Linked DNA regions of Homo sapiens. The protein of the gene in region 1 interacts with the protein of each later gene in a biochemical or structural test. Each region holds a gene or a part of one and is shown in the gene's direction. Other genes may lie near its edges.

Region 1 (5,508 bases):
TGGTGGGGACAAAAGGGCCCCCAATTGAGAATCACTCTTCTAGATAAAAAGTATATATGAATTCTGTCCTACTCTGTTCAGTTAGGGATTCAAGATCAGTATACTATACATAAAACAATTAGAGAACAACTAAGTGCTAAATTAAGTTTTCTGGCAATGGTTTCTGATTATATATTTGTTTGATTTTTAAGGTATACATGCATGTAGTTTCAGAGTTAGAAGGCAAAGTAGTTCTATAAACCTTGTAACAAAAATAGCAATTCTTGAGGCCTGCATCATCTAGGTTCAGCTTTTCAGAGGCAACACTTTAAATTGTTTCAGCTGGTAATGTTCTAGGACTGTACCTCCATATCTCTATAACACAGATGTATGGTTTTTTTTTATTAGGCATTATCCATGGACTTTTCATTATGAAAGATGAAGATTTCTGCCCTAACCCCACACCCCTACTCCCCACCACACACAATTGTCTTCTGAGGTGGGGATAGGGTGACCCTCTCCATATATATCATGAATATCATAATTTTGTAAGATCATTAGTCAATAGTTACATTAGTATAACTAAATGCTTTTCACAGCTGAGCCATTTTGCATTTTATAATTATTTTTCTGTTTCTGCACAACATTGTTTTTCTTGGAGTTAATAATTCTCTTTTTAAAAATATTTGCTTAATTTAGGATGATCAATAATGCATTCCAAAGTCTCTCCAGGTTACATGTATCCTCTCAAAACATTCAGGCAAATTAAGTGTCCTATTAAGGATTCCTTTTTTTTTTTTTTTTTGAGACAGAGTCTTGCTCTGTCACCCAGGCTAGAATGCAGTGGCGCATCTCAGGTCACTGCAGCCTCAACCTACCAGGCTCAAGTGATCCTCCCGCCTCAGCCCCCAAAGTAGCCGGGACTACAGCTATGCACAACCATGCGCGGCTTGTTTTTTTTTTTTTTTTTTTTTTTTTTGAGACGGAGTCTCACTCTCTCACCCAGGCTGGAGTGCAGTGGCGCTATCTCAGCCCACTGCAACCTCTGCCTCCCAGGTTCAAGCAATTCTCCTGCCTCAGCCTCCTGAATAGCTGGGATTACAGGCGCGTGCCACCACACCTAATTTTTGTATTTTTAGTAGAGATGGTGTTTCACCATATCGGTCAGGCTGGTCTCGAACTCCTGACCCTGTGATCCACCTGCCTCTGCCTCCCAGAGTGCTGGGATTACAGATGTGAGCCACCGCGCCTGGCCTAAGTTTTTGTATTTTTTGTAGAGACGGGGTTTCGCTGTGTTGCACAGGCTGGTCTCGAGCTCCTGAGCTCAAGTGATCCGCCCACCTAGGCCTCCCAAAGTGTTGGAATTACAGGTATGAGCCACAGTGCCCTATTAAGGATTCTTAATGAAATCTTGGAGCCTTCTAATCTGCTCCAGTCTGGACTGGTTGTTCTCTGGGCCTCCTGTGTACCTGTGGACTTCATTTTCTGTGAGATCATTCTAGGCATTCCCTTTAACTCCCTCTTGTGTAAGGCCCCATGTCATCTTTTTTGATTTATTTGCTCAATTTGGTAGAACCCATTTTCCAGTAGTATTGTAGAAACTATTTATTTATTTATTTATTTTGAGGTGGAGTTTTGCTCTTGTTGCCCAGGCTGGAGTGCAATGGCGTGATCTCGGCTCACTGCAACCTCCGCCTCCCGTGTTCAAGCGATTCTCCTGCCTCAGCCTCCTGAGTAGCTGGGATTACAGGCATGCGCCACCACGCTGGCTAATTTTGCATTTTTAGTAGAGACGGGGTTTGTCCATGTTGGTCAGGCTAGTCTTGAGCTCCTGACCTCAGGTGATCTGCCCGCCTCACCCTCCCAAATTGCTGGGATTATAGGCATGAGCCACCGTGTTTGGCCAGAAATAATTTTTAATTTTCAACTTCTTTTGTTTCTTTTCTTCTTATTAGCATCCCGTTCTTGTTTTATGGATGAAATGTCTTGTTTTTCTTCAACAATTTTCTAATTTTTCTTGAAAATTTTTTTCCTTGTGGACATTGTTGCTCATCCCTATAATCTCAGTACTTTGGGAGGCTGAGGGAGGAGAATCACTTGAGCCTAGGAGTTCAAGACTAGCCTGGGCAACATAGCCCGTGTCTAGAAAAAATTTAAAAAATTAGGCTGGGCAAGGCTCACACCTGTAATCCTAGCACTTTGGGACGCTGAGGCAGGAGGACTGCTTGAGTCTAGAAGTTCAAGACCAGCCTGAGCAACATAGTGAGACTTTGTCTTCACAAAAAATTTAAAAAATTAGTTGAGTGTAGTAGTGTACACCTGTAGTCTTAGCTATTTTGCAGGCTTAGGTGGGAAGATCTCGTGAGCCTGGGAGGTTGGGGCTCCATGAGACGTGATTGTGCCACTGCACTCCATCGTGGGCAACAGAGTGAGACCCTGTCTAAAATATTTTTTTTTCCTTTTGAACTGGTCAGATTGTTTAGAGCTATGTTTTTCAAACTGCAGGTCTAGACCTATTAGGAGATAATAAAATAAATTTAGTGGTCATGAGGAGCATTTCTTTTGAGACAGAATGTCACTCTGTCACCTAGACTGGAGTGCAGTGGTACGATCACAGCTCACTGCAGCCTCAACCTCCCAGGCTCAAGTGATCCTCCCACCTCAGCCCCCAGCTACAGGCACATGCCACCACACCCAGTTATTTTTTTTTATTTTTTGTGGAGGTAAAGTTTTGCCATGTTGCCCAGGCTGGTCTCAAACTCCTGGGCTCAAGTGATCTTCCTGCCTCAGCCTCCCAAAGTGTTGTGATTATAGGCATGAGCCACCACTCCTGGCCCACATTTCTTTTTTAAGTGAAACAGAGCAGTAGATATCAAAATGCCTTGCCCATAGTAGTGATGAGTGGTTTTTTTCCTGAAATTTTGTTTCTGTTATGTATTTATATTTATTTGTGGGTTTTAGTTATGAAATCAAATGTATTCCTTACTGTGGCTTTTGGTCAAAAAGTTTGAAAAACATTGCTCAGGAGAAAACTGCCTCTTCTCATTTCATTCCGGGAGGGTATTTCTGGCTGCTGGCTTCTGAGAGCTGAGTAGGGAAAGAAGGCTGAGGTTCTTAACATTTGGTTTGGAAATTTTTACATATTTATCCCGTTTTCAGTACATTATTCCTGCCTTAGACTGTGCTTGGTGTCCCCAATCCAAAGACGCTCTATTTTACGGTCTCCAGAGAATAAGCCTGGAGTCTTCCACGGGAGTGGGGGAGGTGCAGTCGTCTAGCTTTACAGCATAGGGGAGGGGATCCGGGAATCTGTTTCTTAAACATTGAACCACCTTGCAATTTTTAGCTCCTTGTTCATTTCCATTTCCAGAGGTCCTTGTTGCCACCATTTCCTTTTTTGAGGTCCTGTGATAAAAATCAGGTTGTTTCTTTACTTTCTTTACGGCTGGTTTAGGATTTGGATTACCCAGGTATCACTAACCTATCTTCTTTTTAGCTTCAAAGTTTTGTTGCTGTGTCTTCTCCCACTCTCTGTTATAGTGGATTTATGCCTTTTTAGAAGTCCTTTAATCTTACATCAATAGACTTAAGGAAGGCGTGGAACTAATGTTATGTCTTTAGTCTGCACCTTTAACTAGAAATATGAGCATTCATTTTTATTTATTTATTTTTTGAGATGGGGTCTCACTCTGTTGTCCAGGCTGGAATGCAATGGCGTGATCTTGGCTCACTACAACCTCTGCCTCCCGGGCTCAAGCAGTCCTACCGTTTCAGCCTTCCGCGTAGCTGGGAGTACAGGCATACGCCACCAAGCCTGGCTAATTATTGTATTTTTTATAGAAACAGGGTTTCACCATGTTGCCCAGGCTGGTCTTGAACTCCTGGACTCATGCAATCTGCCCACCTCAGCCTCCCAAAGTGCTGGGATTACAGGCATGAGCCACCATGCCCAACCTGAGTACTCATTTTTTTACATAAAATTTTTTGACAGTTCATCTCCTGTAGTTATGCAGGTATCCACTGATTAAGAAAATACATGACAAAAAGCTGGTGTACATTTAATAACACTTCTAAATAAAGTCACAACTCAACACATTTGAAAAATAATATATATGCGTGTGAAATGATCATTCAGTCTGCAGACATGTTAAGCAAGTTATACATAAAGATTCGTGGGATTCTTTGGAACTCTTTGCAGTGCTCACACTTGGCAGTGATTACTTTGTAGAAATAACTAAATATAATGGAATTCAAAGCAGAAAGCATAGTCATGGAAGGCTTTGATGAGTGGAATTTGGATTGGGGGAAGGAAGAATGTATTCCAGGGGAGACAGCATGAGCAGAGGGGTGCAAGGGTAGGAGATAACGTGGCTTGAGCCAGTGGGCTGGGCTATACCTGAGGGATTTTGTTGGAGAATAACGAGTAGTGAAGTTGGAAGGGAAAAGTGGCATCAGGATATGAAGGCTCTGGAAGTTTATTTGGATATATTATAGGCAGTATAGGGTGATGTTAATTCTTGAGAGAAGAAATATAATGATAATAGCATTTTATTAGATCAGTCAGGTTATAACATTAGAGATACATTGAGAGAGATTAAAGATGAGAGAGGCTATTGAAGTATCTAGGCATGGAATATGAATAACATTTGTTCATATTTGGCAGGCACCATTTTAAGCATTTTATAATATATAATGTGTTTACCCTTCTTATTATTATTGTCATCCTCATTTTGCAGGAAATGGGCATAGAGGAGTAGATGACTGGGAGTTACGTAGAGATAGAGATGAATTCCAGGTATATTGTGGACTTCTAGCGACCTTAAATAATTAATAGTTTTACGTTGTTGGTGGTGATGATGGTGGTGGTTCTTTTCGTCCCTCCCTACCTTCCTTTATTACTTTTTTGGAGGTCAGGTAGGTTGGGGAATATCATCACCTCTTGGGACAGACCAAGGTAGATGGCAGAGGTGAAAAGAGGCCAGGTCCAGAGAAGACATTAAGAGTTTTATTACTTTCTTGCCCACTATGTTTAGAACTTTTGAATCCTCCGTCCTCCAAATATTGGCATTAGAGAGTGGATTTTTCCAGTGTTTGAAAGACTTTGTTGAACTTACTCTTTTGGGGTTCTGGGAATTACATGGGTAAATTATAAAGAAAACATTAAAAATTTTAAAAAAATTTAAGGGAGAAAAAAGAACTTTTTAGAATCACAAAATTCTGTAAATCAATGTTCTTGCTATTGACAGGAATAGTATATTAATTACTTACAGTATGTTAGGGTGCTCCTTCTCTCTGCCTATAAGATGTGGCCAGTTGAAGTTTCTATCATGTGAAGATTTACAGAGAGCTATCTGGTGAGTATGTAAGACAGTTATTTGACCTATATATGGTAATCATAACATGTTTCTCTTTAGCTTGGTTCTACAGCCATTGGGATCCAGACATCAGAGGGTGTGTGCCTAGCTGTGGAGAAGAGAATTACTTCCCCACTGATGGAGCCCAGCAGCATTGAGAAAATTGTAGAGATTG
Region 2 (3,510 bases), on another chromosome or scaffold:
ACCTCAGGTGATCCACCTGCCTTGGCCTCCCAAAGTGTTAGGATTACAAGTGTGAGCCACCGAGCCTGGCCAAGATAGTTTAAAAAAAAAATTATATCTACATTAAAGCCACAAGTCACCCTTTGCTGAAGTCAGTATTAGTAGTTGGAAGCAGTGTGTTATTCTTGACCCCATGAAGTGGCACTTATTAAGTAGCTTGCTTTTCCATAATTATGGCCTAGCTTTTTAAAACCTACTATGAACACCACAAGCATAGAGTTTTCCAAAAGTTCAAGAAGGAAAGGAAACCAATTATACTGAATCAGGTAGATTCTTAACTGAAATAATTAGATGTTTTAATAGCCTCTTATGAACTTTCTTCCAGAACCAAAAACTTTTGCTAGAAAATCAGCTTTTACGAGAGAAAACTCATGGCCTTGTAGTTGAGAACCAGGAGTTAAGACAGCGCTTGGGGATGGATGCCCTGGTTGCTGAAGAGGAGGCGGAAGCCAAGGTAAATCATCTCCTTTATTTGGTGCCTCATGTGAGTACTGGTTCCAAGTGACATGACCCAGCGATTATGTTTACAGTCTGGACTTCTGATCAAGAGCGTTCTTGAAATTTTCCTTCAGTTTTAAGACATTTTCATGCAGGCAGAGTGTTCTTCCCCTAAAGGCACTTGACACTCATTTTTTAAGTGTGTAGTGAACAGTACTAAGATCTAATAATGAAAACAAGTTACATGGCTCCCTAAGAACAAGTACTAACAAATGCAGTAGCCAACAAGATTACCATGCAATCATTAAGGAGAACCAAAGTAAGAGAGCCACTCAAACCAGATTTTGAACGCTACTAAAATTAAAGTAGTTCTTTGATGAATATGAATGAGTAGGGAAAGGATTCTTTGTAATAGTGATACCTCTGTGGTAAGAGAAGGGTGGTATGTGAGTTTTAGTCTACAGATTATGGCAAATTCAGTGACAACAATCAAATGGTCTAAGATTGACAGTAGCACAGTTTTACTCTGTGAAGGTAATGTTCAGGACAAATTTCAAGAAAACTAGAAAACCATTCTTTACAGCTGAAATCTTTCCCTAACCATTGTTATTTCCACTTTTAAGTCCTCAAGAGATGAGAAAAGGGAGGTAAGGCTTCCTTATACATTTCCTGCACAATGAAACATTTTTCCTCCTCCAGGCAAAGATTCAAGCAGAACTGGCAAATATCTTATCTTGCTCTTCTCAATAATAATAATGTTGTTAGATAATAAAGTTCTATAGCAATTTAACCCTAGAATCTTTTTGAAAAGTAATTCTTTAAAGTTGAGAATCACAGCTGTCTAGCAAGCATTTCCTTGGGCACTTGAAGCTGTTTATTCACTTTGGTCTTTCCTCCCAGGGGAATGAAGTGAGGCCAGTGGCCGGGTCTGCTGAGTCCGCAGCACTCAGACTACGTGCACCTCTGCAGCAGGTGCAGGCCCAGTTGTCACCCCTCCAGAACATCTCCCCATGGATTCTGGCGGTATTGACTCTTCAGATTCAGAGGTAGGGATCATTCTGACTTATTAAAGAGCTATATAACCAGTTAATTCCATCTGTTTGATGCTTGACATCCCTAACTAGACAGATGAGGGTTGAAGTTAGTTTTTGGTGGGGTTGGAGGTGAACATCAACTACCTTCCTAGTTCCAGGTAATATAGAACATGGAGTGAAGTGTAGATAAATGGGTCTGGTGGGTCCCGAGGTCATCTTATCACATAATGACTAATTTACATTATGGAACCCAGTACAAAGTGTTCCAGTTAGATTTTCCATTGTATTCTGACAGTTGTACTTCATTTAATTTTTGCCTCTTACAGTCTGATATCCTGTTGGGCATTCTGGACAACTTGGACCCAGTCATGTTCTTCAAATGCCCTTCCCCAGAGCCTGCCAGCCTGGAGGAGCTCCCAGAGGTCTACCCAGAAGGACCCAGTTCCTTACCAGCCTCCCTTTCTCTGTCAGTGGGGACGTCATCAGCCAAGCTGGAAGCCATTAATGAACTAATTCGTTTTGACCACATATATACCAAGCCCCTAGTCTTAGAGATACCCTCTGAGACAGAGAGCCAAGCTAATGTGGTAGTGAAAATCGAGGAAGCACCTCTCAGCCCCTCAGAGAATGATCACCCTGAATTCATTGTCTCAGTGAAGGAAGAACCTGTAGAAGATGACCTCGTTCCGGAGCTGGGTATCTCAAATCTGCTTTCATCCAGCCACTGCCCAAAGCCATCTTCCTGCCTACTGGATGCTTACAGTGACTGTGGATACGGGGGTTCCCTTTCCCCATTCAGTGACATGTCCTCTCTGCTTGGTGTAAACCATTCTTGGGAGGACACTTTTGCCAATGAACTCTTTCCCCAGCTGATTAGTGTCTAAGGAATGATCCAATACTGTTGCCCTTTTCCTTGACTATTACACTGCCTGGAGGATAGCAGAGAAGCCTGTCTGTACTTCATTCAAAAAGCCAAAATAGAGAGTATACAGTCCTAGAGAATTCCTCTATTTGTTCAGATCTCATAGATGACCCCCAGGTATTGTCTTTTGACATCCAGCAGTCCAAGGTATTGAGACATATTACTGGAAGTAAGAAATATTACTATAATTGAGAACTACAGCTTTTAAGATTGTACTTTTATCTTAAAAGGGTGGTAGTTTTCCCTAAAATACTTATTATGTAAGGGTCATTAGACAAATGTCTTGAAGTAGACATGGAATTTATGAATGGTTCTTTATCATTTCTCTTCCCCCTTTTTGGCATCCTGGCTTGCCTCCAGTTTTAGGTCCTTTAGTTTGCTTCTGTAAGCAACGGGAACACCTGCTGAGGGGGCTCTTTCCCTCATGTATACTTCAAGTAAGATCAAGAATCTTTTGTGAAATTATAGAAATTTACTATGTAAATGCTTGATGGAATTTTTTCCTGCTAGTGTAGCTTCTGAAAGGTGCTTTCTCCATTTATTTAAAACTACCCATGCAATTAAAAGGTACAATGCAGCATCCTTGTTTGATTTCTTCTAGGGCCGTAAGTCTTGTTTTCTCTCCAGATGTTTATCTGTGTGCTGTGGTAGGAATTAATCCAACTGAAGTGAGCCTAACGCTTTTTAAAGTGACTGAAGGCTTTTCCACCTTAATTACTGCCTGCTTTAATTCTGGACTGCCATAAGTGATATAAGCTATAATTTGAGCAGTTACTGTCTTTCTGAGACAGATTCTTGAGCCTAACTGACCAATATCACAGCTAGTAAGTGGAAGAGCTAGAACCCTAACCACTATTTGCTACACCATCTTATAAATGTTAAACAAGGACACACCATCACATATCGAGATTCTCTTGCCCTTATTATGGGAATTAAGAGCATTTTCTAGACTGAAACTCCCTATTTTCAACTCTGCCACTGGTAAGCTGGGTAACCCAGGGGTTATATATAATCACTTATTTCCTCATCTGTAAAGTTGGATAATGGTATCTCTAAAGGTTAAGATTCAAAGAGACG

What was found. The genes of interacting proteins can lie anywhere in the genome.
Region 2: the proteins of PSMA5 (region 1) and XBP1 form a complex in vitro, tested with the Homo sapiens proteins (one study listed by IntAct).

What each region holds. Positions count from the first base shown.
Region 1 is NC_000001.11:109,415,249-109,420,756, reverse strand, and holds part of PSMA5 (proteasome subunit alpha type-5), read left to right. Parts: intron 1-5,393; coding exon 5,394-5,508. UniProt on the Homo sapiens protein: Component of the 20S core proteasome complex involved in the proteolytic degradation of most intracellular proteins. This complex plays numerous essential roles within the cell by associating with different regulatory particles.
Region 2 is NC_000022.11:28,794,060-28,797,569, reverse strand, and holds the end of XBP1 (X-box-binding protein 1), read left to right. Parts: intron 1-364; coding exon 365-493; intron 494-1,377; coding exon 1,378-1,416; coding exon of another isoform or gene 1,417-1,442; coding exon 1,443-1,523; intron 1,524-1,837; coding exon 1,838-2,395; 3' UTR 2,396-3,010; downstream 3,011-3,510. UniProt on the Homo sapiens protein: Functions as a transcription factor during endoplasmic reticulum (ER) stress by regulating the unfolded protein response (UPR).